Linked DNA regions of Homo sapiens: region 1 is linked to region 2. Evidence: fine-mapped expression QTL. A gene starts in region 2. The other region holds a variant in brackets. All regions are shown on one strand. Distances are from middle to middle.

Region 1 (4,395 bases), 20 kb after region 2:
ACACCATCTTTAATTTGGTTTGTATATACTTCCCGTCCATGTTTCTCTACTTTGTTTATATTTGCATTCATAGACAACATGTGGTATTACTGTATGTGTTTTATGACATTTACGTATTCTGCCTCTGCTTTTTTCACTCTGTGGTATATGCTCTTAGATTTTTGTTTTTCAATCTATTTTCAGTGGAAGAAAGCAGAAGAGAAACTAGAGCGAGAGCTTCGAGAGGCAGAAGCTTCAGAGAGTACTGAGAAAAAACTTAAACTGGTAGGCAGTTTCATATTCTGTTATGCTTTTAAAATGCGTTAAGTTGTTTAAACTAGAAATTTATTGTTTCAGCTTGTAGCTGTGTAATTTTGGTTTCTTTCATGAGGCTTAGATGTGTGACTTTTGTGATGTGCGGGAAACTGTGATGTGATCAGTGCTAGTTTTATGCAGTCACAGGGTGTATATCTTCATTCTGTTTTGTTAAAAATTTCAAAGATTGCATTGTGGGGAGGGATGGGTAGGGAAAAAAGTTAACCTGTTGAAGTGATACTTATGCTCACTCAGGAGAAAGCATACCAGGTTATCCTAAAGTCATTTTGTCTGTCTCCTCTGCCAGCACACAGAGACTCTGAATATTGTGTTTGTAACCTACTTCAGAATATTGAAGAAGGCCCAGAGGTCACCTCTCCTGCCAGCAGTTCTAGAAGGTCTTGCCAAGTAAGGGCTGTGTAGGTTGAAATCTTTTAGATTCCTTCTAAATAGGAAAGACCAAAGAATTTTCGAGAGTTCCCTAATGATGGCCCATTATCCTCAGTTCTCATTCCTTTTCTGATTGTCACCAGCCTTTACTTGAAGCTATTCATAACAGTGGGCTTTTTTGATTTTCTCATCTCAAACCTTTTATTTTTAAAATCTCCTTTACCAACTCCTTCTTTCTGCCTACTAAATTCTAGGTGTTCCTAAGGTTAAATCTCTCAGTTCTTGACTCTTTCTGCACTGTGTAGTCAATTGCCCATCGTCATAGTTTGAGTGGATCATGCAGATGACTCTTAAGTCTATTTTAACCCGGCTGTACATCATTTCTCTAGTTCTGTGTAATGTGTTTCTGCTAAGATAGATCTTTTGGTGTATTCACTCAACACTAATGGCCTTGTCAGGATGTGAGCTAGAGTAAGGGTTGTGGTTGTCATGATAGCGTTCCACAATTTTTTGAGGTGGTATCCTATAGAACATTGCTATTCGGTAAAAATATAATGTGAACTTACATATATAATTTAAAATTTTCTATTAGCCACATTAAAAAGATAAAAAGAAACAGGTGAAATTAATTTTTATATATTTTACTGGATTTGATTTATCTGAAGTATTTTAACACAATATTAAACATTAATGAGTTGTTTGGTGTTTTTTCATAACATATTTTCGAACACTTATATTTTACGCTTGTGTCTTAATTTGGACTAGCTACATTTTAAGTGCCTAACAGCCACATGTGGCTAGTGGCTACCATTGTTGGGCAGTACAACTTTAGGAATAGAGTTGGAAATAGGACTGATGGCTAGAAGATATAGAAAAGGCAAGTTCTGTTTATCATAAGAAATTACTTTCTAATAACTGGAGCTATTTGGCAATGGTATGCATTTCCTTATATGGTGATACGGTCCTTGTGGTTAAAAATCTTCAGAGAGGCTGGTCAGAGAAGGGATTATTCCTACATTGTGTAGGACTTGCTGTTTTTATTTTTGTTTTTAAATAGAGACAAGCTCTCACCATATTGCCCAGGCTGATCTTGAACTCCTGAGTGAGTCATCCTCCAGCCTTGGCCTCACAAAGTGCTAGGATTACAGGCGTGAGCCACCATGCTCGACCCAGCTATTTGTTTTTTAATAACTAATTCCTTTATTTAAAAAAGTTTAAAAAATAATATATGGTCATTTAAAAAATTTAAATAATGCAAAAGAATATACAATTTAAAATTGCAAGCTCCCCCTCCTATATATGTATGTAGTCTGTCTGCGTGCCATCTGCCACCTTTTTTTTTTTTTTTGGAGACACTGTCTTGCTCTGTTGCTCAGGCTGGGTTGCAGTGACGTAATCTGAGCTGACTACAACCTCCACATCCCAGGTTCAAGCAGTCACCTGCCTCAGCCTCTCGAGTAGCTGAGACTACAGGCATGTGCCATCACACCTGGCTAATTTCTGTATTTTTAGTAAAGATGGGGTTTCCTCATGTTGGCCAGGCTGGTCTCGAACTCCTGACCTTAGGTGATCCATCCGCCTCGGCCTCCCAAAGTGCTGGGATTACAGGCATGAGCCATCGCACCGGGCCTGCCTGCCATCTTTCATGCAAATGGAATCATGCTATGTTTAGTGTCCTGTAACTTGCTTTTTTTTTTTTTTTTGGTTTTGTAAACAGTTACTTTTGGTACCTCTCCCTTATCACATATATATCACTTAATTTTTAAAAAATTTATAGTGCTCCATTTTATAGATATATTGTACTTTATTTGGTCAGTCGCCTATTTGCACTGGGAATACTTGCGCACGTGTGTGTGTGTGTGTGTGTGTGTGT[GTGTGTA/A]TCTTCATGCATGTGTGTGCATGTAGTGCCAGATCAAAGGGTATGCTCATTTTAAATTTTGATAAATAATTGTCAGATTGCTTCTCCAAAAAGTTGTACCGATATGCATGGAATATGTCACTCATAAGGTCTTTTATTCTTCTAAGATTTACATAGATCAAAGACTTCTTGCTAATATTGAAGAGATGTCCTGACTTTAACCTACTTCAGTGTCTACTATAGTATATGGAGTAACTCTCAAATTTAGCAGCTCATATGATTCTTCTTTAACCCTATTGGGTGGTCTCAGTTATTTCTACAAATAGAGGCCCAGGACAGTGAAGTGAGTTACCTAGGATCACGCAGGTAATTAAGAGCAGAGCCTGAACTAGATACTGGGGTCCAGTATTCTTTCCATTTTATCCTTAAAGCTGTCATAAGGTCCATATTCTTGTAAGTAGCAGAATCTTTCCTTGTCTCTCTTCCCACCACCTGTTTTCTTAGAAGCCGATCCTGCCGGATACCTCCTAAACTTTCCTCAGGAAGTTGTTTGCTTCTAGTAATTTCTTTCTCAGTGCAGAAGGATTTTTGAAATATTTTTGGTTTGTTCAGTGCCTTATATATTTCTACTGAGTTTAGTGTTCAATGGTGTATGAATTGTTGAAGAGGCCAATCTGAATTAATGAAAAGTATCAATAATTGCCATGTCTTTCATAGCTAACATTTCGAAATAAAGAATATTAAAAATACAGTTTTAAAGTCAAGCTTAATTTCTACCAGCTTTATTTCTGCTTTTAGTTCACTGATTAACTGTTTTGTTTGATTCCAGGTTTGCTCACCTTATAAATGTGGAATTTTTTGATGATCTGTTAGTAGTTCTTCATACTCTCATTGAGTCTGGTGTAAGTAATAATAAATTATTTTTTAAAAGATATAAATGGTAATTACTATTTTAAAAATTTTTCAGGTTTATTGAGATATATTTTGTATACAGTAAAACCCCTTTTAGATGTACAGTTTATGAATTTTGACAAAGGCCTATGATCATATGATTACCACCACAGTCAAGATGTAGAACGTTTTCAACCATTGGAGAGTTTTAAGCAGGAGGGTTGTCTGACCTGTTTTCTTTTTTTTTTTTTTAAATTGATGCATAATAGATGTACATGGTTTCAGGGTATATGTGATAATTAAATATATTCATATAATATAGTTTGTAAATATTTTACTTGGGATATCAGTCACCTTAAATATGTGTCTTTATGTGACAACCATTCAAATTCTTCCCTCCTAGCTATTTTGAAATAGATAATAGATTATTGTAAACTATAGTCACCCTGTAAATCTGCCTCATACTAGGTTATCTTAAAGATAACCTTTATAGGTCTTTTTTTTCTTTTTTGAGATAGGGTCTCACTCAGTTGCCCAGGCCGGAGTGCAGTGGTGCAATCACAGCTCACTGCAGCCTTGACCTTCCAGGGCTCAGGTGATCCTCCCACTTTAGCCTTTTGAGTAGCTGGGACTACAGATGTGGGGCACCATACCTGGCTAATTTTTCTATTTTTTTGTAGAAATTTTTTTTTTTTTTTTTTTTGAGAGGGAGTCTTGCTCTGTCACCCAGGCTGGAGTGCAGTGGCGTGATCTCGGCTCACTGCAAGCTCCGCCTCCCGGGTTCACACCATTCTCCTGCCTCAGCCTCCCGAGTAGCTGGGACTACAGGCGCCCACCACCATGCCCGGTTAATTTTTTGTATTTTTAGTAGAGACAGGGTTTCACCGTGTTAGCCAGGATGGTCTTGATCTCCTGACCTCGTGATCTGCCCGCCTCGGCCTCCTGAAGTGCTGGGATTGCAG
Region 2 (4,395 bases):
GATACAAGAATCTGATGAAGCTGGGAGGAGTTGGTTTTGAACTGGAATGGGGATGCCTCATCCTTGGAGAGACTGGAAGGAAGGCTAAAAGGATGGGAGTGACTGTAGATATGTTGATATGCTTGGGAGGGAATTCAGGCACTTGGGAAGAGCACAGGCTGATGTTTTCCACTTGTTTGATGAAGTAATACTCCAGCGGGACAGGCTCTGCTGTTTCTGACACTGTGTGGAAGGAGACAGAGCAAGGAAGAAGTTGGAAGGGAGGTTGAAAGAAGAGTGCCAGATGGACCTCTTGGTCTTTGTGGTGGGATCAGGAAATTGGTACTTTTTTCCCTCAGTCTCTCTAAGAGCAACACTATTCAAGGGGCTCAGAACCCTTTGAGCCGCACTACTGGGTTTTCCCACCTGCTCAGGACTGCGAGGCCAGACTCTGTGTCAGGGCCATGCTCAAAAATCATAGACTCAAAAAAACCCACAAAAAACTTGAAGTGGAATGCTTAAATTTATTGAGAAAAAAAAGTCTTTGAGAGACAAGCACTTTGATACTCTTATTCTTGCAATCCATAAAACTTCCTGTAAAAATGAACGACTTTAGGCGGGGCGCGGTGGCTCATGCCTGTTATCCCAGCACTTTGGGAGGCCAAGGTGGGCGAATCACGAGGTCAGGAGATCGAGACCATCCTGGCTAACACGGTGAAACCCCGTCTCTACTAAAAATACAAAAAAAATTAGCTGGGCGTGGTGGCGGGCGCCTGTAGTTCCAGTTACTCGGGAGGCTGAGGCAGGAGAATGGCGTGAACCCAGAAGGCAGAGCTTGCAATGAGCCCAGATTGCGCCACTGCACTCCAGCCTGGGCGCCAGAGCAAGACTCCGTCTCAAAAAACAAAAACAAAAAACGACTTTGGTGAAATTACTAAGCAGACAGAATTTACCCAAAGTTGTAAGATACTGAAATGCAGATACAGTTTTTTATTTTTATTTTTATTTTTTAGACAGTCTTGCTCTGTCACCCAGGCTGGAGTGCAGTGGTGTGATCTCGACTCACTGCAACCTCTGCCTCCTGGGTTCAAGCGATTCTCCTGCCTCAGCCTCCCGAGTAGCTAGGATTACAGGCGCACGCCACCATGTCTGGCTGATTTTTGTATTTTTAGTAGAGACAGGGTTTCACCATGTTGGCCAGGCTGGTCTCGAACTCCTGGAACTCAGGTGATCCACCCGCCTCTGCCTCCCTAAGTGCTGGGATTACAAGCGTGAACCACCGCACCCAGCCATGGATACAGTTCTTTATCAGCTAATGGTTAAAAATTAAAGCAAAAAAAAAATGCAAAATAAAACACTAAGAATCACAGACTTTTAAGTGACCAAGGCTGATGAGAAATCATTCGCCATGCTACAAACACGGCCAGAATGTCCGTCGAGGGGCAGGCATTACACACAAAAAATAAGCTTCTTTCTGCCCTCAGGACTGTATGGAGGAAAAAGACTACGAAAATCAGTATCTATAACAGCATGAGATAAGCAACGTGAGGAGAGGCACAAAATGCAATGAGGTGACCGAAAAAACCAAGTCCTCTCATTCTGAGAGGAGGAGCCCGATTTCCCCAAGGTTTTAAAAGAAATAAATAGGGCGAGAGTCAAAGAATCATACTCAGATAACCTTGCAAAATGCGCCCCTCCCGCCCGGCTTCCCGCCTTTGGCACCGACGCCCTCGGGGCTTCCCTCGTGCCAGTCCGCGCGCGCACGCCGGGGGGCAACCGGTCCAGGGCCGCGAGACAGTCACCGCGAGAGGGCGCGAGCCCGAACCTGTCTACGGAAGTCCCGCCCTCACTTCCGGCGGCGGAGGATTGGGAGGGACTGAAGGCCGTTTCCGGCTCTGGTAGTGTAGGGACTTCGGCACGTGTGTCATTCCCCGGGATTTCTGTAGTAACCCTGCTTCTGGTGAACTTGTCTGGCCGGCATTCATTTAAGGCCTAAGGATGAAGGCGGTAAGTGTCCTCAAAAGCCCGGTCGCCGCGGCCTAGGGCCCCTTCGGGTGATAGAGTCACTGCCTGAGTTAGCTTTTAGGCAGGTTTTCACCCGTGTCTAGGGGGCGGTGGTTTAGACTGGGGGCTTTCCATTCCTTACACCGAGCTCATCCTTGGTTACCCACTGTGTGCGCGCACCACTTCAGAGTATCACGAAGAGACAGGCACGGAGTTTTGCATGCGTGGGATTTCATACTTTGAAGGAATTTTTCAAGACCGTCTTTCGAACTCGTTTTTCACAAATGAGAAGCAGGGTCCTACCCTCAGCGAGTTTATAATGTGAGTCACGGTACCCATGAAGGGTAAAGAGATAGAAAAGCAAGTGATTTGTCCTGGTTCTCCCAGAAAATAAGAGGTAGTCCTGGGGTTCAGGACTAACTTTGGGATTTCTGAATGAGTCACCAGCAAGAGAAGTGGAATCCAAAGATCCGAATTCAGTTTTGCCCTCCTTAGTTTATGGGTCTTTTGGCAGCTTCATCAGTAATGTGAGGATAACAGCAGTCAGTACTCAACTAGGCTGTTAGAGGTGATTTGTTGGAGCACTTTGTAAGTAATAAAATCGTAGATAAATGTAAGTTTTATTAAAGACAGCCAGCATTTTGCTTTGAATGTGTTAAACTACAGGTGTGTTAAACTAGCCTTGAATAGCCACTTACCACTACTAGATCAGTGGTTCTTAACCTGTTTGGGGATCGTAGAACCCTTTGAATTGCTGTGAATTGGGATTGAATAACTGATGCTGTAGCGCTCTTCTGTAGGATTAAAGCCATCGTTTGGTTTTAGCTTTTATATGCAAGTCTGTGGCTGTGGGACATTGAAATTGTGGAATTGGTCTAATGAAATTTGTAATCAGTTCTCTTTAACCTGATTTAAAAAATAAGTTTCTGGGTATGCAGTATTCTTTCTGTTATTTTCTAGAGAAGAAATAAAAAACAGATCCCAAGCTTTCGCAAGTTAATAAAAACTAGTAAAGTCAAACTTGAAAACAAGCTAAAAAATAAGCAGTTTAAACAACAAAGCACTCTCAAGAAGTACCGAAAAGAACAGAGGAAACTAAGGCAAGCTGTGAAAGATGCTGTGTCTAAGAAACCCATTCCATTGGAGAACCCAAAGGAAAAGCGACCAGGTAATTGTGAAAACATCATGTGCTCTGGTTTCCATTGATTTATTCTGAAGTGTTCTTCATGGAAATAACTTTGCTTTCTAGTAATCGCTTTTCTTGTTCTCAGATCTTCCTAGAGTGGGTAAGGATAGTAGTCCTATAGGACTGCTATAAAGCATATATGCTTTATCACAGTCAGTATGAGAAAACATTTCAATACAGTATTCATTCAAGCTTCTGCTTTTAGTTTGTCTGGAAGGCAGATCTGAAGATGCACTACTTGGGAAAACAAACTGAAAGTACTCCGTTACATAAATATTGGGCAGTGTGCCAGTGCTGCCACTTTGCCATTCACCAGCAGTTAGGTAAGGTAAGAACATTGCTTGTCTCTGGTTCATTCTTCACAGTATTGCCAAGGTACACTTCTAAACTTCTGACTTTCTTTTCATGTGGAAACTTGGGGTGAAATTGAGTTGTAATTGTCATGGTTATTTTGTAAAACTATCTAAAAATTATTAAGTACTCAAAACTTGTAAGGAATATGACTATTTTGAGTCAGGCTAGTTCTACAACTTTGCTGGTACTTTTAGGGTATTCTTATTTGACTATATCAGATTATTAGACAACTATTCAGTCTTCTCAGGTCCATTTTTTAAAAATTATTATTATTATTTTAAATAGACAGGGTCTTGTTCTGTCACCCAGGCTGGAGTGCAGTGTGCAAAAATAGCCCACTACAGCCTTGACCTCCTGGGCTCAGGCAGTCCTCCTGCTTCAGCCTCCAAAAGTGCTGGAATTGCAAGGGTGAGCCACAGCACCCAGCTAAAGTTTTTTTTTTTTCTAATTTTGTGGGTACATAGTAGGTGTATATATTTATGGGATACATGAGGTACTTTGATACAGGCATACAATGCATAATAATCACATCAGAGTAAATGTGGTATCCATCACCTCAAGCATTTATCTTTGTGTTACGAACAATCCAGTTATACTTTTTTAGTTATTTTAAAACATAAAATAAATTATTGTTGACTATAGTCATCCTATCTATCAAATACTAGATCTTTTTCTAAGTGTATTTTTGTACCCATTAACCATCCCTACTCCTATCTCCTCCAACTGCCTTTCCCAGCCAGTGGTAACCATCATTCTACTCTCTTCATGAGTTCAGTTGTTTTAATTTTTAGCTACCACAAATAAGTGAGAACATGTGAAATTTGTCTTTCTGTGCCTAGCTTGTTTAACTTAGCATAATGGCCTTTAGTTTC

Which allele goes with the higher level. Positions count from the first base shown, and alleles are read on the strand shown. Sizes are in standard deviations (SD) of each study's normalised expression.
With allele A in place of GTGTGTA in region 1, the expression in follicular helper T cells of the gene that starts at base 1,877 in region 2 is higher (large effect, 1.1 SD a copy in Schmiedel 2018).

The links. PIP is the estimated chance that this variant, and not a neighbour inherited with it, causes the effect.
Region 1: its variant is the best candidate, but not a certain one, in a credible set for the expression of NOC3L in follicular helper T cells (Schmiedel 2018, PIP 0.60).

Annotation. Positions count from the first base shown.
Region 1 is chr10:94,340,722-94,345,116 of GRCh38, reverse strand. It overlaps NOC3L (NOC3 like DNA replication regulator), which reads left to right. Exons shown (of 21, transcript NM_022451.11): 12 at 184-264; 13 at 602-702; 14 at 3,372-3,444. Among named protein-coding and RNA genes, the nearest start is that of NOC3L, 20 kb to the left of the region's middle. The variant GTGTGTA/A (reference allele first, on the strand shown) is at 2,558.
Region 2 is chr10:94,360,421-94,364,815 of GRCh38, reverse strand. It overlaps NOC3L (NOC3 like DNA replication regulator), which reads left to right and starts at 1,877. Exons shown (of 21, transcript NM_022451.11): 1 at 1,877-1,986; 2 at 2,944-3,151. The coding sequence starts at 1,978. RefSeq lists a silencer at 1,674-1,803 and an enhancer at 1,944-2,203.